Regions from separate parts of the Homo sapiens genome. Here region 2 is linked to region 1. A link means that fine-mapping ties the variant in region 1 to the expression of a gene that starts in the linked region. Tissue or cell type: whole blood. Region 1 holds a variant in brackets; the other region holds the start of a gene. Each region is shown on its reference strand, or each on the opposite one.

Region 1 (5,368 bases):
TTTTTTTAATTATACTTTAAGTGTTAGGGTACATGTGCACAATGTGCAGGTTAGTTACATATCTATACATGTGCCATGCTGGTGTGCTGCACCCATTTACTCGTCATTTAGCGTTAGGTATATCTCCTAATGCTATCCCTCCCCCCTCCTCCCACCCCACAACAGTCCCCAGAGTGTGATGTTCCCCTTCCTGTGTCCTTGTGTTCTCATTGTTCAATTCCCACCTATGAGTGAGAATATGCGGCGTTTGGTTTTTTGTTCTTGCGATAGTTTACTGAGAATGATGATTTCCAATTTCATCCATGTCCCTACAAAGGACATGAACTCATCATTTTTTATGGCTGCATAGTATTCCATGGTGTATATGTGCCACATTTTCTTAATCCAGTGTATCATTGTTGGACATTTGGGTTGGTTCCAAGTCTTTGCTGTTGTGAATAAAGCCGCAGTAAACATATGTGTGCATGTGTCTTTATAGCAGCATGATTTATAGTCCTTTGGGTGTATACCCAGTAATGGGATGGCTGGGTCAAATGGTATTTCTAGTTCTAGATCCCTGAGGAATGGCCACACTGACTTCCACAATGGTTGAACTAGTTTACAGTCCCACCAACAGTGTAAAAGCATTCCTATTTCTCCACATCCTCTCCAGCGCCTGTTGTTTCCTGACTTTTTAATGATCGCCATTCTAACTGGTGTGAGATGGTATCTCATTGTGGTTTTGATTTGCATTTCTCTGATGGCCGGTGATGGTGCGCATTTTTCATGTGTTTTTTGGCTGCATAAATGTCTTCTTTTGAGAAGTGTCTGTTCATGTCCTTCGCCCACTTTTTGATGGGGTTGTTTGTTTTTTTCTTGTAAATTTATTTGAGTTCATTGTAGATTCTGGATATTAGCCCTTTGTCAGATGAGTAGGTTGCAAAAATTTTCTCCCATTTTGTAGGTTGCCTGTTCACTGTGATGGTAGTTTCTTTAGAAAACCCCATTGTCTCAGCCCAAAATCTCCTTAAGCTAATAAGCAACTTCAGCAAAGTCTCAGGATACAAAATCAATGTACAAAAATCACAAGCATTCTTATACACCAATAACAGACAAACAGAGAGCCAAATCATGAGTGAACTCCCATTCACAATTGCTTCAAAGAGAATAAAATACCTAGGAATCCAACTTACAAGGGATGTGAAGGACCTCTTCAAGGAGAACTACAAACAACTGCTCAGTGAAATAAAAGATGATACAAACAAATGGAAGAACATTCCATGCTCATGGGTAGGAAGAATCAATATCGTGAAAATGGCCATACTGCCCAAGGTAATTTATAGATTCAATGCCATCCCCATCAAGCTACCAATGACTTTCTTCACAGAATTGGAAAAAACTACTTTAAAGTTCATATGGAACCAAAAAAGAGCCCACATCGCCAAGTCAATCCTAAGCCAAAAGAACAAAGCTGGAGGCATCACGCTACCTGACTTCAAACTATACTACAAGGCTACAGTAACCAAAACAGCATGGTACTGGTACCAAAACAGAGATATAGATCAATGGAACAGAACAGAGCCCTCAGAAATAACGCCGCATATCTACAACTATCTGATCTTTGACAAACCTGAGAAAAACAAGCAATGGGGAAAGGATTCCCTATTTAATAAATGGTGCTGGGAAAACTGGCTAGCCATATGTAGAAAGCTGAAACTGGATCCGTTCCTTACACCTTATACAAAAATTAATTCAAGATGGATTAAAGACTTAAACGTTAGACCTAAAACCATAAAAATCCTAGAAGAAAACCTAGGCATTACCATTCAGGACATAGGCATGGGCAAGGACTTCATGTCTAAAACACCAAAAGCAATGGCAACAAAAGCCAAAATTGACAATTGGGATCTAATTAAACTAAAGAGCTTCTGCTGTTGCTTTTTACCATCACTGCCCCTGAATCTTTTCTCCCTTACTTACCCCAGTACCTCCTTTTCCTTAAACACATTGGCAGTCAGCTTCAGCTTCAGCCCTGATTCCACCCTGTCTCTTCCATTCCTAGCTAAGGAAACTTGAACAGGGTGTCTACAAAGGCTGGGCTCATTTCCTCTTCTCCCATGCCCTGTGTTTATTTTTATTTTATGTTATTTTATCATTATTATTTTGAGACGGAGTCTCACTCTGTCCCCCTGGCTGGAGTGCAGTGGCACGATCTCAGTTCGCCACAACCTCTGCCTCCTGAGTTCAAGTGATTCTCCTGCCTCAGCCTCCCAAATAGCTGGGACTACAGGCACCCGCCACTATGCCCAGCTAATTTTTGTATTTTTAGTAGAGTTGGGGGTTTCACCATGTTGGCCAGGCTGGTCTCGAGCTCCTGAACTCAGGTGATCTGCCCGCCTCGGCCTCCCAAAGTGCTGGGATTACAGGCGTGAACCATCGTGCCCAGCCTATTTTTATTTTTGAGACATGGTCTTGCTCTGTCACCCAGGCTGGAGTGCAGTGGTACAGTCATGGCTCAATGCAGCCTTGACCTCTCCTGCTCAAGTGATCCTCCTGCCTCAGCCTCCCAAGTAACTGAGACTACAGGTGTGCACCACCATGCCCAGCTAATTTTTTTTGGAGTCTTGCTGTATTGGCCAGGCTGATCTTGAGTTCCTGGCTTCAAGTGATCCTCCTACCTCAACTTCCCAAAGTGTTGGGTTTACAGGTATGAGCCACCGTGCCCATAGAGAATTTCCTTCCTTATGAACGATGAATATTCCATCGTATGGATGGACCACAGTTTGCTTATCCATTCATCTGTTGACGGATACGGAACTGCTTCCACCATGCAGCTATCATGATTAATGCTGTGGTGAACGTGGATGTATTTCTTTTCTTCCCAACCCTGCTTTCAATTCTTTTTTTTGTTTGTGTTTAGATGGAGTCTTGCTCTGTCACCAGGATGGAGTACAGTGACGCGATCTCAGCTCACTGCAACCTCTGCTTCTGGGGTTCAAGCGATTCCCCTGCCTCAGCCTCCCGAGTAGCTGGGACTACAGGTGCCCGCCATCATGCCCGGCTAATTTTTGTATTTTAGTAGAGATGGGGTTTTGCCATGTTACACAGGCTGGTCTCAAACTCCTGGGCTCAAGTGATCCTCCCACCTCAGCCTCCCAAAGTGCTGGGATTACAGGCGTGAGCCACCGCACCCGGCCTGCTTTCAGTTCTTTTGGGTATATACCCAGAAGTGGGATAATTGCTGTCTCATATGGTAATTCTACTTTTGATTCTATAAGGAACTCCCATACTGTTTTCCATAGCAGCTGCATCATTTTACATTCCT[G/A]CCAGCAGTGTACAAGGGTTCCAATTTCTCCACTTCCTCACCAACACTTATGCTGTTTTGTTCTTTTCTTTTCTGATAATAGTCATCCCGATGAGTGCTATCTTTCAGTTCATTCCTTTTAGCCGCTGTCTTGTATTCTACTGCAGGAACAAAGCACATTTTATTGATCTATTCTCCTCCTAAGGGACTGGTAGATTGTTTCCACTTTTTTCCTGTTACAAACGGGGCTGCAATTAATGTTCTTGTACAGGTTTCCTTGTGCACCTAAGAGCATCACCAGATGAACACTGAGAAGTGGATTTCCTGGGTTTAAGGTTATAGCAGGCAGAGCCCCCGTAGAATCAGCCAGCTTATGGAAGGTTTCATAGAGGAACTGCGTACACAGTTAGGGCGGGTTGCAAGGAAACCATAAGGGATAGGGCAGCAACCTAGGGCTTGTAGCAGCTGAGCTGTTACTGCCACAAGGCCCAAAGGGACACAGAAGGGAAAGCTTCCCAGACCCGGAAAGAAAATAATTGTGTAGAGATGGTCATCTTGAGAGGGGTGATCTTTTGCAGAGGGACTCAGCTGACTTGAGGTGACCAAATACCGTGACCACTCTTTCTTTTTTTCTCCCTTCCCTTTCCCTTTCCCTTCCTTTTCCCTTCCCTTCCCCTTCCTTCCTTCTCTCCTTTCTTCTTCTCTTTCCTTCCCCTCCCCTCCCTTCCCCCTCCCCCTCCCCTCCCTCCCTCCCTCCCTCCCTCCCTCCCTCCCTTCCTTCCTTCCTTCCTTCCTTCCTTCCTTCCTTCCTTCCTTCCTTTCGATGGAGTCTCGTTCTGTTGTCCAGGCTGGAGTGCAGTGGCGTGATCTTGGCTCACTGTAACCCCCACCTTTTGGGTTCAAGCGATTCTTCTGTCTCAGCCTCCTGAGTAACTGACATTACAAGCACATGCCGCCATGCCTGGCTAATTTTTGTATTTTTAGTCGAGACAGGGTTTCACCATGTTGGCCAGACTGGTCTCAAACTCCCGGCCTCAGGTGATCTGCCCAACCTCGCCTCCCAAAGTGCAGGGATTACAGGTGTGAGCCACCGCACCTGGCCAGTTTCCTTTTTTAAAATTTTTTTAAAAATTTTTTTGTAGAGATAGGTCATGCTTTGTTGCCCAGGCTGATCTTGAACTCCTGGGCTCAAGCAATCCCCTTGCCTCTGCCTCCCAAGATGTTGGGATTACAGGCGTGAGTCCCATGCCTGGCTTTCCTTCTTCCTTCTTTCCTGTCTGTCTTCCTCTCTCTCTCTCTCTCTTTCTCTTTCTCTCTCTCTTTCTTTCTAACAGGGTCTCAGGGTGGAGTGCAGTGGCACGATCACAGCTCCCTGCAGCCTTGACCACCCAGGCTCAAGCAGTTCTCCCACCTCAGCCCACCGAGTAGCTGGGACTACAGGCATGTGCCACCACACCGGCTATTTTTTTTTTTTTTTTTACTTTCTGTAGCGACAGGGTCTCATGTTGCCCAGGCTGGTCTCAAACTCCGGGGCTCGAGCAATCCTCCCACTGCAGCTGCCCAAAGTGCAGAGATGATAGGTGTGAGCCAATGCGCCCAGCCTTTCCTTCCTTCTGATCTCCCGCCAGGGTGCCCACTAGGAACCCAAGCCCAAGGCATGGTAGCCTGTCCAAGTCAGCCTCCTGAGGCCAGGGCAACGTGGAAAGGGGTGAAGGGATCGATTCGAGGGCTATCCAGAAGATGTCTGGCACATAGAGTATAGCCATCCTCAACTGTAGGGGGAATTTCCAATTTGCATTTATTTAATTATTTATTTAGTTAGTGAGTGAGTTAGTTAGTTTTTGAGACAGAGTCTTGCTTTGTCGCCCAGGCTGGAGTGCAGTGGCGCGATCTTGGCTAACTGCAAGCTCTGCCTCCTGGGTTCACGCCATTCTCTTGCCTCAGCCTCCTGAGTAGCTGGGAGTACAGGCGCCCGCCACCACGCCCGGCTAATTTTTTGCATTTTTAGTGGAGACAGGGTTTCACCGTGTTAGCCAGGATGGTCTCGATCTCCTGACCTCGTGATCTGCCCACCTCGGCCTCCCA
Region 2 (5,368 bases), not on the chromosome of region 1:
CCCCTTCCCTGAGCAACCCCTCCTCCAGGGCCTGGACCCTGGCTCCCACTTCTGGCAGGGACCCTTCCCCACTCCCAAGCCCACCACAACGGCGGCTTTCCTCATCGGACACAGCATACATGAAGGCCTGTTCCCGGCTTTGGGGGGGGGAGAATGAAGAGGGGGTGACGTCAGGGTGTCTCAATGGGGCTCTGTTCCCCAGGCCTTGGAGCCAGGAGCCAGGCACGGGCAAGGGGAGCATGTGTGAGTGTGCTGTGTATGCGTCCACGTGCTTAAAACAGGGAAACACCAGACCTGCACGGAGGAAGCTTGGGGGTGCGGGACCTCGGGAACATGGGGGCCAGTGAGGCAGGGAGAGAGCAGGCACATGGAGAGAGGGGTTCAGGAGACTGCGAGACAGAGTGCAGAAGTGGCAGCAGTCAGACAGCAAGGGCTGGGATGGCGAGGTCCCAGAAGCACACCTGGGTCCCACAGAGGCGGGGTAGGGATTCTCCCAGACAGACTATGCAAGCCTGGGGGGACAAAACTCCTGGGCACCCCCCAACCTCACGTGACGGCCCAAACTTTTTTTAAGGGACTATGAGGGTCGGAAGGGAGGAGTGGTGGCAGAGGAAGAACACGCCGGCCTCCTGGGGGGCCCCACCACCTCCCCCACTCCAGGCGGCCCTCTATGGCGCCAGAGCCGGGAAGAAAACAGGAAGTGGGAAACAGCCACGGCAGAGAGAGGGACCGGGATGGAGAACTGGATGGAGGGGTGCGGAGCGGCAGGCCAGGAGGCAGACGGGAAAGATGCACCGATCGGAGGCCATTCCAGGCCTCCTTCCCCTCCCCTCCCCCAGCCGGAAAACCCACACACTGTCCCGCCCCCCGACAGGGTTGGGGAAGCGACCCGCGGATCCTATCAGGCCAAGGCCGGTAGCAGGGAGAGAAGATGAAGCGAGGTTGTCTGGGTGCCTCGGCCTCCTCCTTGGGCGAGGGTAGGCTCCTGCTGCCCCCAGGGCCCAGCCACCCGGGAGCGAGTGGAAGCCGGGGGAGTGTGTAGGACGCACGTGACTGACCCTACCGCACTCCGCACCCCGGCCCCACCCCCAGGGCCCCTCCTCGGTCCGGGTCCCAATCCCCTGGCGCCGGATCCCAGCTCGGAGCCCTTTAAGATTAAGCCGCCCCCACCCGCCGAGCAGGGGGATGGGGATGGGAATGGGGTGGGAATGGGGTGGGGATGGGGTGGGGTGGGTGGGCCGGTCGGGGCACACACCCGCACACAGGAGCCCGAGCCGCCGCCGCCGCCGCCGCCGCCGCCGGGGGAAGGAAACAAGTTTGAACAGCGGCGCCCGGCCCCCTTCCCCCTCCCCCGTCCCCGCCCCGGGCCGGATTCCGACGGGGTAGACGGGCAGGGGGCGGCTGGGACCCCTCCCCCTGCGCGCTCGGGCGCAAAGTCCAGCCCGCGCGAGCCCGGGGGCGGCGGGGGAGGGGAGGGGGAAAAGTCCGAGTGGGAGGGGGAGTTAATCCCGCTGCCCCCCGCCCGCCGACCGAGGGGGAGGGGAACCTTGGCCCCTTAAGGAGGAGCAAGTTGGCGGGGAAGAGAGGGGCGGAGGGAAGAGACGGCCCGCTGAAAGAGAAGAGGTGGATCCGGGAGGGGGGGCGAGGGGGGAGCCTCTGCGTCTCCCCCCACCTTCCCCACCCTCCTCAACCCCGGGCCACCGGTGGCGCGGGAGGAGGGTACCCAGGTCTCCCCGGAGCCACCTTAAAGCCGCGCGTTCTAAGGTCGGAAACAAAAAGTTCCTTTTTCGAACGTTCGGGCTGCGCTTTGGAACTTTGCGACTCGGCGAGGGCGGGGGAGCGAGGAGCCGACAGAGGCGGGCGGGGGAGGGGCGGCGCAGCCAGGACCCCGAGTCCCGGGCTCCCCACTCACGCCCTCCTCCTAGAGGCCATCCCGTATCCCCCGCTAACCTGGTGCAGGGCACGCGCCGCCGTGAAGGTCACCAGCAGGACCGCGCAGCGCAGAACCAGGGATAGCGGGCCCGGTGGACGAGCCCCCCCGCCCCGCACACGTCCCGGCCCCCAGAGTGCAACGTGACAAGAGCGGAGGGGAAGGACCCCGCCACCCCCGTGATCCCGGGAGTGGGGGAGAGCCCGGCCTGCGGGGTCCCGGTAGGGATACAGGACCAAGACCCGCAGCACCCACACCACTCCGCCCGGAGCCAGGAATCGGGGGTCCCAGGCAGCAACCCCGCTCGCGCCACGAGAAGCAACAGGTCTCCAGTGCTTGAGGGGTCCCCCAGAACTGGGGATCACTCGGGCTCCCCCGGACCCCTTCAGCCCCCCCAAAGTTTCTCCGTTCGGTTTCCCGGGGCAACAAGTCTCCCCCACACGTGCTGCCCCCGCCCCCACCTGTGTCCGCCGGGGTCTTCATGCTGGGGGGCCCGGGGCGAAGCGCCCCGATTCCGGGCCGCGGCTCCCGGCGCCCTCGCTGCCCCGTCCCGTCCCGCGCCCGTCGGGCCGCCCTCGCCGCCTCACCCGGCCTCGCCTCTCAGAGCCTCTCCCCTCCCCGCCGCCGCCTCCCGGGTTAATATCGCACTCCGGGGCCGGGACGCCCACGCCCCCCGGCCGGCGACGTCACCGCCGCGTCGCCATGGAGACACTGCGCCCGCCCCCTCCCCGCGCACTCACACACACGCTCGTCGGCGCGCAGCCACTGAGGACCGGCCGGCTCTGGGCTTAAAGGGGCCGCGCGGCGGGGGAGGGAGGAAGGAGGGGGTGGGGGTGGGATGGGGTCCCGCGGGTCATGACCCTAGTCAGAGGCTCCGAGTCTGCAGCTAACTTAAGTCTTCGGCACTCGCTACCTGCTGCCCCTCCTCCTCTCCTGCCCACTGCGGGCTCCAGAGTTTCTTTTGGGAGCCTGTATGGGAAAACGGGGGGCCCTTCCGAGGAAGCGGGGGTCAGAAACTTTTGTGGGGAGGGGGCAGAATCTTCTCTGCAGAGGGGCGGGGTCAGGACCTTAGAAGATGATGAAGACCACAGCATTTCCCAGCTTGGTTTTACCCAACCCCCCAACCCTGAGCCTGAATGGGGGCAGCTGTCCAGGGGTGGGGTGGAATGGGTGGGATGCATTTCCCAGCATCGGAAATGGGGAGGCGGCTGTGCCCTCCGCTCCTGTGGGGATGGGGTCTTGGCTTCCCTGATAACCCCCGTCCAGCTGGGGAGGAAGTGACCAGAGAGAATGCATTTGGAAGCCCCCACCACCACCGTCCCCAGGCTGCAGCTGTCCCGGGGATAGGGCTGGCGCCGGAGGTCCCCCCACGTCCACTACTAGGACCGGGGGTTCCGGAGGCGGGGCCGGGATACGAGGGGGCGACCAAAGTCTGAACAAATGTGCTCCCAAGGGGCACTGAGGGTCGCCAGGAGAGAGGAAGACAGGGCTTAAGATCGAAAGCCAGAGCGTAGAGAAGTGTTAAGTCTCCGTTCTCTGCCTCAGCCGGGAGGGAAGGATGAAGCCTGAGGCTCTGGGAAACAGGAAATCACAGCGCAGATCTGATGGAGCCCAGGAGCCGGCAGCAGGGTAGAGGCCAAATAGAAGCAATATTCACAGGCATAGCCTGGAAACAGAGTCTCAAAAAAGACTCTGAGGTTCCGAAGGAGGGGCGTATGGGTGGCGGGCGGGAGTTGGGGGGGCTGGGTGGGGGACGAATCCAGAAGATGGGCGGGGAGACAGAAAAGTCACAGATAGGGAAGGCCTGCGGAGCTCAGGCTCCCGGTACCCAGGGCTTCAATCCCAGCCTCCTCGCTTGCGGGGTACCTAGTCCACCTTAGACAGGCTCCTCACCAGTGCCTAAAAAAAAAAGTCTCAGGCCTCCTCCTTGGGGAGACCAAGGGCTCCAGGGAAGCTTTCCCCCACAACCCCCGGGAATTATGTAACCTTGCCTACGGACAGTACAGCTCCCCCACGGATATTGTAACCCTCTGGGAGCGGTGTGGTCCAGCAATAATAATCATCTTCATTGTTCGAATAACAGCTCCCGAATTCCGAGTGTTCATGATGTGCCAGGCACCGGGCCAAGCATTGTCAGGGGCATCTTCTCATTTAATCCTCACAAAATCCCAACGAGGGGAATTACTGCTGTTATCCCCATTTACAGATAAAGAAAGTGATGCTCTCTGAGGGAAAATCAGTCCACTAAATCTTACAGCCAGGAAGTATTGGAACTAAGATTCGAACCCAGATCTAACCAATTCCAAACCACCACATTTACCCTTTACCATTATGCTTTATTACCTCTTTTACTACCCCCTCCAAAAAAAAAAAAATGCAGATTTTCAAAGATACTACATCAGGGCCCGGCGCAGTGGCGCACGCCTGTAAACCTAGCACTTTGGGAGCCGAGGCGGGAGATCACTTCAGGTCAGAAGTTCCAGACCAGCCTGGCCAACATGGTGAAACCCCATCTCTACTAAAAGTACAGAAATTTGCCAGGCGTGGTGGCGCACCTGTAATCCCGGCTACTCAGGAGGCTGAGGCAGGAGAATCGCTTGAACCCAGGAGGATCGCTTGAATCCAGGAGGCGGAGGCTGTAGTGAGCCGAGATCGCTCCGCTGCACTCCACCCTGGGTAACAGCAAAACTCCGTCTAAAAATAAATAAATAAAAAGGCTGGGCGCGGTAGCTCACGCCTGTAATCCCAGCACTTTGGGAGGCCGAGGCAGGTGGATCACCTGAGGTCTGTAGTTCGAGACCAGCCTGACCAACATGGAGAAACCCCGTCCCTACTAAAAATACAAAAAATTAGCCGGGCTTGGTGGTGCATGTCTGTAATCCCAGCTGCTCGGGAGGCTAAGGTAGAATCGCTTGAACCCGGGAGGGGGTTGGTTGCGGTGAGCTGAGATCGCGCCATTGCACTCCAGCCTGGGCAACAAGAGCGAAACTCAGTTTCAAAACAAACAAACAAACAAAAAGATAACACATCAGTAACAAACCCAGTGACCCCTACCCTCCCACCAGCAAGACAGAGATGAGTTACACCCAACCTTTTTTTTTTTTTTTTGAGACGGAGTCTCACTCTGTCGTCCAGGGTGGAGTGCAGTGGCCCCATCTCGGCTCACTGCAAGCTCCGCCTCCCGGGTTCACGCCATTCTCCTGCCTCAGCCTACTGAGTAGCTGGGACTACAGGCGCCCCCCACCACGCCCGGCTAATCTTTTGTATTTTTAGTAGAGACAGGGTTTCACCGTGTTAGCCAGGATGGTCTCAATCTTCTGACCTCGTGATCCGCCAGCCTCAGCCTCCCAAAGTGCTGGGATTACATGTGTGAGCCACCACACCTGGCTGTTACACCCAACCTTTGCTACTTCTTGTCTCTGACAAGGCAAGTGAACT

What was found. PIP is the estimated chance that this variant, and not a neighbour inherited with it, causes the effect.
Region 2: it holds the start of ERF, and the variant in region 1 is fine-mapped to the expression of ERF in whole blood (TOPMed, PIP 0.98).

Annotation. Positions count from the first base shown.
Region 1 is chr16:3,885,402-3,890,769 of GRCh38, forward strand. No RefSeq gene overlaps it. Among named protein-coding and RNA genes, the nearest start is that of CREBBP, 7.4 kb to the left of the region's middle. The variant G/A (reference allele first, on the strand shown) is at 3,305.
Region 2 is chr19:42,252,587-42,257,954 of GRCh38, forward strand. ERF (ETS2 repressor factor) reads right to left here and starts at 2,542. Exons shown (of 4, transcript NM_006494.4): 1 at 2,392-2,542. The coding sequence starts at 2,413. RefSeq lists silencers at 1,004-1,163, 1,214-1,263, 1,284-1,403, 1,494-1,563, 1,644-2,333 and 1 more and enhancers at 2,099-2,598, 3,239-3,770, 4,566-5,368.